Linked DNA regions of Homo sapiens. The protein of the gene in region 1 purifies or fractionates together with the protein of each later gene. This does not show direct contact. Each region holds a gene or a part of one and is shown in the gene's direction. Other genes may lie near its edges.

Region 1 (3,825 bases):
CAGCACTTTGGAAGGCTGAGGCGAGTGGATCACTTGAGGTCAGAAGTTTAAGACAGCCTGGTCAACATGGCGAAACCCTGGCTTTACTAAAAATACAAAAATTAGCCAGGCATGGTGGTGTGCACCTGTTATCCCAGCTGCTCGGGAGGCTGAAGCAGGAGAATCACTTGACTCCGGAGGAGGAGGTTTCAGTAAGCCAAGATTGTACGTACCACTGCTCTCCAACCTGAGCGACAGAGCAACTCCATCTCAAAAAAAAAAAAAGTGTCTTCTCTCATAGGCAAGTAACTTCAGTAGTAAAACGAGAAGAGAGCAGCACCAAAGTAGCTCTGCTGAGAGGTGAAGCCAGCTGGACTTCCTGGGTGGAGTGGGGACTTGGTGAACTTTTCTGTCTAGTTAGAGAATTGTAAATGCACCAATCAGCACACTGTAAAAATGCACCAATCAGCACTCTGTGTCCAGCTAAAGGATTGTAAACACACCAATCAGCACTCTGTAAAAATGCACCAATCAGCGCTCTGTGTCTAGGTAAAGGATTGTAAACGCACCAATCAGCACTCTGTTTCCAGCTAAAGGATTGTAAACACACCAATCAGCACTCTGTAAAAATGCACCAATCAGTGCTCTGTGTCTAGCTAAAGGATTGTAAACACACCAATCAGCACTCTGTGTCTAGCTAAAGGATTGTAAATGCACCAATCAGCACTGTGTCTAGCTAAAGGATTGTAAACGCACCAATCAGCACTCTGTAAAAACGCACCAATCAGCACTCTGTGTCTAGCTAAAGGATTGTAAATGCACAAATCAGCACTCTGTCAAATGGACCAATCAGCACTCCATAAAATGGACCAATCAGTGCTCTGTAAAATGGACCATTCAGCAGGATGTGGGCAGGGACAAATAAGGGAATAAAAGCTGGCACCCCCAACAGCAGCGGCAACCTACTCGGGTCCCCTTCCACGCTGTGGAAGCTTTGTTCTCTCGCTCTTCACAATAAATCTTGCTGCTGCTCACTCTTTGGGTTCGTGCCACCTTTAAGAGCTATAACACTCACCGAAAGCTCCACGGCTTCATTCTTGAAGTCAGCAAGACCAAGAACCCACTGGAAGGAACCAACTCCGGACACACTTCTAGGAGACTACTTCCAGTCAAATGGAATGCGCTTCCTCTGATCAAGAAATGAATCCTACCATAAGTTCAAACATATCTATACATACCTATACAGAGTCCCATCCTTTTAAATTGGAAGAACTTCATGAAATTTTAGAGCTAGTTCTAAAGTGTGCAGAGAGAGAACTAGAGATATACTAAGGTTAAAAGGTATTTGATTCCCACCCCTGCTTCATCCTCTCCCCAGCCTCATAATATATGCCTTCTGTGTATGAGGGTGGACTTAATGACTTTATCTTTTTTTAATTAAAAAATGGATCTAATACTAACCTACTTTCTCCAAGGATACAGTAGTTCTCTTGGTAATAAGATCTTAGATGTTCATGCTTTTGACAATCATGGTTAACTTGCAGCTGGAGAACACAGCAGCATGCCTGGGAACTGAACTACAATTCCCAGAGTGCATCTCTAGGAGGATTCTGGGAAGTGTGGCAGAAGCAGCAATGGTCCCTCCAGGGAACGGAAGCCGTTGAACGTGAACATTTGGAGTTTCCTCTTTTGTGCTGATTCCTGAGGACTAGGAAGGTGCCCCGAAAAGAATTCAGAGTGAGTACAGTGAAACAGAAACCTGCTCAGCTTCTAAGTGCAGGAAGGACTTCACAGGGAGGCATGATCAGAACTTGAAAAAAGGTCGTGGTCACAGCATTTTAACATTTTAGCTTAATCTCTTCCTTTTTGCAGAAACCAGGGATATAACCATAGTTTTGCCTCATAACTGTGGAGCTACATCAGTAACCACAGCTCATCATTTTCTGATACTTTTTTGGAGAGTCATTTAAAAATGGAACTTGCCAACCTCTCACATTGTGCCTTAATTTTTATTTTTTTTTAAAGGAGGGAAAATTATTTTTTAGAAAGCAAACTATAAAGCAGGTCAGTGAGACCTTCAAAGCTGTATTCCCGTGGTTCCTCAGTTTTCCATATTTCCCTGTCCCATGGAGGTCCACAGTCGTGGAGAAACGGACTCTAAACACAGGCGAAGTATCACTTGGTCGCCCAGGCTGGAGTGCAGTGACACGATCTCCACTCACTGCAAGCTCCGCCTCCTGGGTTCATGCCATTCTCCTGCCTCATACTCCCTAGTAGCTGGGACTACAGGCGCCCGCCACCACGCCCAGCCACTTTTTTTTGTATTTTTAACAGAGACGGGGTTTCACCGTGTTAGCCAGGATGGTCTCGATCTCCTGACCTCGTGATCCGCCCACCTCGGCCTCCCAAAGTGCTGGGATTACAGACGTGAGCCACCGCGCCCGGCCTAAAAAAAGGTCTCTTAAATACTAGGGAACCTGGCCTCTTCACGGTGGAAGTAACCACTAGATTCAAGATGGGCTTTTTTTGTTTTGTCTTGTTTTGTTTTGTTTTTTTGTTTTGAGACGGAGTCTCGCTCTGTCGCCCAGGCTGGAGTGCAGTGGCGCGATCTCGGCTCACTACAAGATGGGCTTTTTTGTCACGCTGTAGTACTTTATAATCTTTCTTCTGGAAAGATGAACAGGATAAGAAACGTGTGAATCATTTGTGTTGGGGAGTTCAAAGAAACTCTTAATGTTAAAGCACCTTGCCTCATCATTTAGTAGTTGGGTAAGACTGCTATTACCTTTCATCTCTATCAAACATTGTACTTTTAAAAACATAAATAGCTCTGTGACCATCAGCTCATGAGTCAGCAGCCATGATAATCTACAACTGGCTAAGGTTAATTTAGTAGCAGAAACTAGGCAAAACATCAGGCAGCAGTTCCCAAGGTCCAAGAAACTCACCAAATGAATTCCCTTTGGCTCATGGAATATGGTGAGGTGTTTTGGGGAACAGTGGCATGGAGGTAGCCTCATTAACCAGTTAGTCTCAGGAACTACTATTTTATTAGGCTTTTCTTTTGTCTTAAAAGGAATAAGTACACATGGCTAATTTTTTTTTCAGTACAGAAAAATGAACAAAATAAAAATTACAGGCACCTTTTTCAATATTTGTCTTCATCCCACTCCCCCAAATTAGTCACTCTTTAATAGTTTGGTATGTATACTTCTAGTCATTTGAAAAATATAAATAAGGCCGGGGGCAGTGGCTCTTGCCTGTAATCCCAGCACTTTGGGAGACCCAGGCAGGCAGATCACCTGAGAACAGGAGTTCGAGACCAGCCTGACCAACATGGAGAAACCCCATCTCTACTAAAAAAAATACAAAATTAGCTAGGCGTGGTGGCGTATGCCTGTAATCCCAACTACTCGAGAGGCTGAGGCAGGAGAATCGCTTGAACCCGGGAGGTGGAGGTTGCGGTGAGCCGAGATTGCGCCATTGCACTCCAGCCCGGGCAACAAGAGCGAAACTCCGTCTCAAAAAAAAATAGAAAGAAAAATATAATTAAATACATATAATTTATGTATATTGGTATGTCTGTGTCCTTTTTTTTATAAATAATTAGGTCATGTTAACCAACTGTTACCTGTTTTTTTCTCCAGCTTTATTAAGGTATAATATTAAGGTATTAAAGTATAATATATACTTTTTGACAAAAAAAGTATATATTTATAGTTTACAATGTGATGTTTTGATACAGGTATACATTGTGAAATGATTAAATCTAGCAAATTAATATATTCATCACCTCACATTTTTTGTGTGTGTTGAGAATATTTAATATCTACTTTCTTAGTAATT
Region 2 (3,500 bases), on another chromosome or scaffold:
ATAGGGATTTGTAATTTTGGGTAACTCAGTATCTAGTTTTATGCTATTATGATCATAGAAACACTATTGTCAGCTGACTCATGTAGCATATTGGGATTGTTTTTCCTTTCCAGTACAAACTTTTTGTTTTCTCTGAAGTTAATAATTGTTCCATCTTTTCTCTTGTTTAGTTTTCTATGTGCTTACTAATTTACCCCCAGACTCTTCCCAAGCTGTCTGAATCTCCTCTCAATACATGAAAGCAGATTGGACATTCTATCCCTTTTGGTCTTCTTGACGAAACTTCTTCCAGAACTTGCGACATGCTGTAGTCTGGATTTGTGAACCTCTTGGCCTACTGTGAAGCTGCTCTCCTGTGCTCTTTCACCATCAGCTGGGGCATCTGTCATCTCTCTCTCATGTTGGGACTCGTGTTTCTTGTCTTTCATATTTTCTTATTTCTTGGCTTTTTCTTTTTCTTTTTTTTTTTTTTTAAATCAGAGCACATATTCCCTGTACTATCTGGAAACAGAATATGGGAAGCAAAAATTTTAAAATGGCCCTTATACTTCATTGATAATTTGTTTGGCTGGGTTTGAAATTATTTTCCCACAGAATTTTGGAGGCTTTGCTCCATTGTCTTTTAGCATCCAGTGTTGCTGTTGGTAAATCTAATGTTATTCTGAGACTTAATCTTTTGACTACTTCTTCTCTCTGCCTTTGGAAGCTTTTTAGAATTTTCTCTTTGTCCCCAGTGTTTTGAAATTTCAGGTAATGTGTTTTAGTATGTGTTGGGCCACTCTGTGAGTCCTTTGAATCTGGAATCTCATCCTTCAGGTCTGGGATATTTCCTTGTTTTATTTCTTTGGCTTTCTTCCTCTCCATTTTTTTTCTCTGTTTTTTCTTTGTGGAACTCTATTATTATTCAGGTGTAGAATTTCTGGGTCTCATCCTCTAATTTTCTTTTCTCTCACATTTTTCATCTCTTACTCTTTTTGTTACATTTTCTTGGGAGACTTACTTAATTTTAATCTCTCAACCTGTTTTTAAAACTCCTGCTTTCCTATTTTTTACTTCCACAAGCTCTTTTTTCTTCTTATGGTGTTCTTTTTAAAAATAGTTTATCTCTGATAATTTTTTTTTAAGATCTCTTCTCTCTTCATAGTCTGTTGCCTCCAAGTTGCTTTTCTTCTGTTTGCTTTGCCCTTTTCTTTCTTCAGATGCTTCATAATCCTGTGTTGTCTTCGATATGAGTGAGATATTAAAAAGCTCTTGGAAGCTATGTGGATGGGGGTGAGGCTTGTCAGTTACAGGCTTTGCTCTAATGTGATTGATATGGTTTGGCTCTATGTCCCCACCCAAATCTCATCTTGAATTGTAATCCCCACGTGTTGAAGGAGGGACCTGGAGGGAGGTGATTGGATCATGGGGGCAGTTTTCCCCATGCTGTTCTCATGATAGTTAGTGGTTTCTCACGAGCTCTGATAGTTAAAAAGTGTTCAGCAGTTCCCCCACTTGTTCGCTTTCTCTCCTGCTGCCACATAAGATGTGCCTTGCTTCCCCTTCACCTTGCGCTGTGATTGTAAGTTTCCTGAGGCCTCCCCAGCCACAAGGAACTGTCAGTCAATTAGACCTCTTTTCTTTATAAATTACCCAGTCTCAGGTGGTTCTTTATAGCAGTGTGAAAATGGACTAATATAGAAAACTGGTACCAGGAGGGGGGCATTGCTACAAAGATACCTGAAAATGTGGAAACAACTTTGGAACTGGTTAATAGGCAGAGGTTGGAACAGTTTGGAGGGGTCAGAAGAAGACAGGAAGATGTCAGACAGTTTGGAACTTCTTAGAGAGTTGAATGGTTTTGACCAAAATGCTGATAGAGATATGGACAATGAAGTCCAGGCTGAGGTGGTCTCAGATGGAGATGAGGAACTTATTGGGAACTGGAGCAAAGGTCACTCTACTGTGCTTTAGCAGAGAGACTGGTGGCATTTTGTCCCTGTCCTAGAGATCTGCAGAACTTTGAACTTGAGAGGGGTGATTTAGGGTGTCTGACAGAAGAAACTTCTAAGCAACAAAGCATTCAAGATGGCTTTTTCTGAAAGCATATGGTCATATGCATTCACAGAGAGATGATGTGAAAGTGGGACTTATGTTTAAAAGGGAAGCAGAGCATAAAAGTTTGGACAATTTGCAGCCTGACCATGCAGTAGAAAAGAAAAACCCATTTTCTGGGGAGAAATTCAAGCCACAAGCTGCAGAAATTTGCATAAGTAATGAGAAGCCAAATGTTAATAGCCAAGACAATGGGGAGAATGTCTTGAGGGCATTTCAGAGATCTTTACAGTAGCCCCTCCCAGCATAGGCCCAGAGGCCTAAGAGGGAAAAATGGTTTCCTGGGCCCTGCTGTTCTGTGCAGCCTCGGGACATGGTGCCCTGTGTCCCAGGCACTCCAGCTCCAGCCATGGCTAAAAGGGGCCAAGGCACAGCTCTGGCCATTGCTTCAGAGGGTGCAAGCCCCAAGCATTGGAGGCTTCCCCATGGTGTTGGGCATGCAGGTGTGCAGAAAACAAGAGTTGAGGTTTGAAAACCTCGTCCGGCCGGGTGCGGTGGCTCACGCCTGTAATCCCAGCACTTTGGGAGGCCAAGGCGGGTGGATCACAAGGTCAGGAGATCGAGACCATCCTGGCTAACATGGTGAAACCCTGTCTGTATTAAAAATACAAAAAAAATTAGCCGGGTGTGGTGGCGTGCACCTGTGTCCCAGCTGCTGGGGAGGCTGAGGCAGGAGAATAGCGTGAACCCAGGAGGCAGAGCTTGCAGTGAGCCAAGATAGCACCACTGCACTCCAGTCTGGGTGACAGAGCAAGACTCCATTTCAAAAAAAAAAAAAAAAAAAAAGAGACAACCTCCTCCTACATTTCAGAGGCTATATGGAAACACCTGGATGTCCAGGCAGAAGTCTGCTGCAGGGGTGAAGCCCTCATGGAGATCCTCTACTAGGGCAATGCAGATGGGAAATATGGGGTTAGAGCCCCCACACAGAGTTCCCAATGGGGAGCCTAGTGGAACTGTGAGAAGAGGGCCACTGCCCTTCAGACCCCAGAATGGTAGATCCACCGACAGTTTGCACCATGTGCCTGGAAAAGCCACAGGCATTCAATGCCAGCCTGTAAAAGCAACCATGGGGCTGTACTCTGCAGAGCCACAGGGGCAGGGCTACCAAAGGCCTTGGGAGCCCACTTCTTACATCAGCATGCCCTGGATGTGAGACATGGAGTCAAAGATTATTTTGGAGCTTTAAGATTTAATGGCTGCCCTGCTGGATTTCAGGCTTGCGTGGGGCCTGTAGCCCCTCTGTTTTGGCCAATTTCTCCCTTTTGGAATGGGAGCATTTACCCAATGCTTGTAACACCAGTGTATCTTGAAAATAACTAATTGGTTTTTGATTTTACAGACTCATAGGCAGAAGGAACTTGCCTTTACTCAGATGAGACTTTGGCTTGTAATTTTGAGTTAAT
Region 3 (3,825 bases), on another chromosome or scaffold:
CTGTTCCTGGGAGTCTGGGGAAAAACTGTGAGAGGAGAGAGTAAGAATATTGCCCCTTCTTTCCGGAAAGCTCTAATAAACCCCATCACCTCAAGACAAGACCACCTGAAGAACAAACATTAGCCATTTCTCTAATATAATAGCATCCCACTTCATTAAGTTGAATTAATGTTTGAGAAACTTTCAACAGAAATTGCAGCCAAGAGTGCTTTCCTTAACAAAATTGATCTCCTTCTCCTTGCCCGTAGCACCTACTATTTCACCACCTGACTATGTAGCATTCTGTATTATTATTTGTATGGCCTGGCTCCTCATCAAGTTTATAACCATATTGCCCACAGAAGGGGACTCAAGAATCAAACTCAGGGCGTTGTGGTGCCCGTTTGTAGTCCCAGCTATTCTGTGAGGCGGAGGTGGGAGGATTGCTTGGGCCCACGAGTCCCAGATAATCTGGGCAACATAGCGAGACCCCATCTCAAAAAAAGAATCTAACTGAATGTGCTGAGCTCCTGCTAGACCATCTAAAGCTGCCTGTGGGCTGGGCGCGGTGGCTCGCACCTGTAGTCCCAGCTACTGGGGAGGCTGAGGCAGGAGAATCGCTTGAACCCGGGAGGTGGAGGTTGCAGTGAGCCCAGATCGGGCCACCGCACTCCAGCCTGGGTGACAGAGCGAGACTGTCTCAATAATAATAATAGTAATAATCATGCTGCCTGTGTCCCCTGATGAGACAGCACTGGCCGCAGGTGGCCGCTAACCTCTCGAAATAGGGATGGCCCGAATTGAGACATATGCAAGTCAACACTACACCGGGTTTCAGAAACACATACGATTTTCAAAAGAATTAAAATATCGCATTTAGTTTTTCTATTGATTGCATGTTGAAATCTTACTTTGGATATATTGGATTAAATAAAGTATATCATTAAAATTTTTAAGCTTATGTGCCTATGAGAAACTTCCAAATTACACAGTTGGATGGCGTTATATTTCTCTTGGACAGCAGTGGTCTGAAAGATGACAAAAATCACGATACGTTTGAATCACGCCATGTCTTTAGGGAAAAGAAGAAAGAAGAGTTTCCTTTCGTATCGCTTAGGGGTTCCTCGCAAGAACCATCTGACAGAGAAAAGCCCTGGCTCCCGCCCCAGTGGCTTCTAATTCTGGTCCCCGCGCCCAGAAAGCCGGGAACGGGCAAGCCTGGAAAGGCGTTTTGAAAGGAAACAGGATCCCCCGAGTATAGGATGCGTTTCTGCCTCACAAAAGTCCCTTGGGGGTGGGGGGACGGCAGCGGCTGAGGCGCAGGAAAGAGGAGAGCACACGGGGAGTGGCCCTTGGAACCAGGCGCGCAAAACCTCAGCCCCTAGGCTCCATTTCCAGGTTCGCGGGTGACCTCCCCAAGATGGCCGCCGCCTGGGGGCGGGCCTCCACGCTGCACGGGTGTTGATTGGGTGAGACGACTCAATGATGAGCAATGATTGGTTCACACGGCGCAAGCTGGGCGGAACCGGAAGATGGTGTGAGCCACGGGCTGCCGGGGGCCTGGGGCTCGGCGTCGGTCCCCGGGGGATGTGGAGAGCTGGCAGCATGTCGGCCGAGCTGGGAGTCGGGTGCGCATTGCGGGCGGTGAACGAGCGCGTGCAGCAGGCTGTGGCGCGGCGGCCGCGGGTGAGGAAGGAGGCTGCGTGGGGACGGTGGGCGGCCGCCTTGAGAAGAGGGACACCTGCGTGGGAATGGGTCGTCACGGTGACGCAGAGGGGTCTCCCAGAGAGGCGGGACTGGTCGGCCGCCTAGGGCCACCGAAAGGCTAGCGAAGGGTTTCCCCAGCCTCCTTACCTTGAGTCTGTTAGGTTTTCTGGAGATTGGCTTCGTTGGAGCAGAGGGTACCGCTACCTCGGGAAAATGACTTAGTGCCTAGGTGTCGTGGCCACTTGCGCACCGCGTCGTTTCGGGGTCGATAGCCTTGGCGGATGCGAGGGGGGCCAGGCCTGTGCCCACGGATGGTAAGGGGAGACGGGGGTACAAGAGCACCCCGCGGAGGCCAGAGACGCCCGAGATCGCGTGTGTGGCAGCGTCTCACCTGCTAAGTGCCCAAGAAATGCCAGTGCCGCCCGGAGGCCGAGGTGAGGGTGGACTGGCCGGACTTCGCTGGCATCAGAGCGGCACTTGTTTATGGGGCAGGAGGGAGAAGTCCAATCCCAAGCCGGTTAAGGGGAGCTTTCGTCTTTTGTGTATATATATATTACATCCTCTTGGACTTTGATTAGACCAAGAATCAAAATCTGCCCACCTCAGTGCAAGTTTAAGCTGAATGGTGTGGAATGAGACGGACCTTAACAGAGAGGTCACAGGTTTCTCTGATCGAGCATTTATGCTGGCTGAAGACAAGACCTGTATTATAGTCTTTCTTTGACTATTCCTTAGACGTTACCTTGAACAAGTCAGGTAACTATTCCGGCCCTCAGCTCTGAAAGCTCTGAGATCTCTTCTGATGTTAATATTCTGTGATTCTCGGTGATTCTCCAAGAAAAATCTAGGGCTTCCCCTAATAAACATCACCTTGGAGGTTCTCTCAGGGAAACTCTCAGGCAGATGGGCTGCCTGTTCGGGTAACTCTCTGGAAAGCGTCAATCATCAGCATACTCCCAGTAGTCACGACTTGGACTCAAACGAGGCTGGTTACGCATCGCTGTGGAAGGAAGGAAGAGGAGACATTTTTCTAATTGATCTGACTCCGTCACGTCCTTGAGAACACTGTGATTCTGTGAAAACTTCAGGGGATGATGGATACAAGAAGACTAAATCGTGCAAGGATAAACGAATCTCTTCTCTTACTGTTTCTATGTGGATTGGGTGGCAGCAGAACGCATAGAACCCCCGCTCTTTGTATAGTGGTCGTGAGAGGATGTCACATAGGTCTGATCCTGAATCCAGAATTTTTTGTGTCGCAGCCTTAGTTCTGCCACTGGTTCTTTTCTTTCTTTTTTTTTTTTTTTTTGTTGTGTTGTTTTGTTTTGTTTTGTTTTGTTTGAGACAGAGTCTCGTTCTGTCGCCCAGGCTGGAGTGCAGTGGCACGATCTTGGCTCACCGCAACCTCCACCTCCCGGGTTCACGCAATTCTCCTGCCTCAGCCTCCTGAGTAGCTGGGATTACAGGCACACACCACCACACCTGGCTAATTTTTTGTGTATTTTTAGTAGAGACAGGGTTTCATTATGTTGGCCAGACTGTTGTTTTTTGTTTTATTTTGAGACGGAGTCTCACTCTGTCACCCAGGCTGGAGTGCAATGGCACAGCCTCAGCTCACTGCAACCTCCACCTCCCGGATTCAAGCAATTCTCCTGCCTTAGCTTCCCAAGTAGCTCGGATTACAGATGCCCACCACCACACCTGGCTAAGTTTTAGTATTTTAATAGAGATGGGGTTTCACCTTTTGGCCAGGCTGGTCTCGAACTCGTAACTTCAGGTGATCCACCCACCTCGGCCTCCCACAGTGCAGGGATTACAGGCGTGTGGCTCACCTGGCCATGCCACTGGTTCTTAATTCACAGATTGAACAATCAATTACTTAGTTACCTAAGTGGGCCACTTTTAGAGTAAATGGGGCAGTGTTATTATGGTGTAATGATACACCAGGACTAGAATGAGTCGCCAAACTGCTAACGTTTGGGTTTCAGAAGCCAGAAGTGACCTCTCTTTTACTTAGAGTGCAGCCTTCTATTAATGAAGTGATTCTTAAGCCTCCAACATTAGTATGTCTTAGAGTCATCTGGAGAGATTGTTAAAAAGGAAATTCTCCGCTGGGCACAGTGGCTCATGCCTGTAATC

What was found.
Region 2: the proteins of NUDT13 (region 1) and CPT2 purify together in Homo sapiens (affinity purification with mass spectrometry; one large-scale study listed by BioGRID and IntAct). This does not show direct contact.
Region 3: the proteins of NUDT13 (region 1) and PLPBP purify together in Homo sapiens (affinity purification with mass spectrometry; one large-scale study listed by BioGRID and IntAct). This does not show direct contact.

Annotation. Positions count from the first base shown.
Region 1 is NC_000010.11:73,108,852-73,112,676, forward strand, and holds the start of NUDT13 (NAD(P)H pyrophosphatase NUDT13, mitochondrial), read left to right. Parts: upstream 1-1,603; 5' UTR 1,604-1,716; intron 1,717-3,825. UniProt on the Homo sapiens protein: NAD(P)H pyrophosphatase that hydrolyzes NADH into NMNH and AMP, and NADPH into NMNH and 2',5'-ADP. Has a marked preference for the reduced pyridine nucleotides.
Region 2 is NC_000001.11:53,203,324-53,206,823, forward strand, and holds part of CPT2 (carnitine O-palmitoyltransferase 2, mitochondrial isoform 1 precursor), read left to right. Parts: intron 1-3,500. UniProt on the Homo sapiens protein: Involved in the intramitochondrial synthesis of acylcarnitines from accumulated acyl-CoA metabolites.
Region 3 is NC_000008.11:37,761,094-37,764,918, forward strand, and holds the start of PLPBP (pyridoxal phosphate homeostasis protein), read left to right. Parts: upstream 1-1,566; coding exon 1,567-1,665; exon of another isoform or gene 1,666-1,720; intron 1,721-1,833; exon of another isoform or gene 1,834-2,171; intron 2,172-3,825. UniProt on the Homo sapiens protein: Pyridoxal 5'-phosphate (PLP)-binding protein, which may be involved in intracellular homeostatic regulation of pyridoxal 5'-phosphate (PLP), the active form of vitamin B6.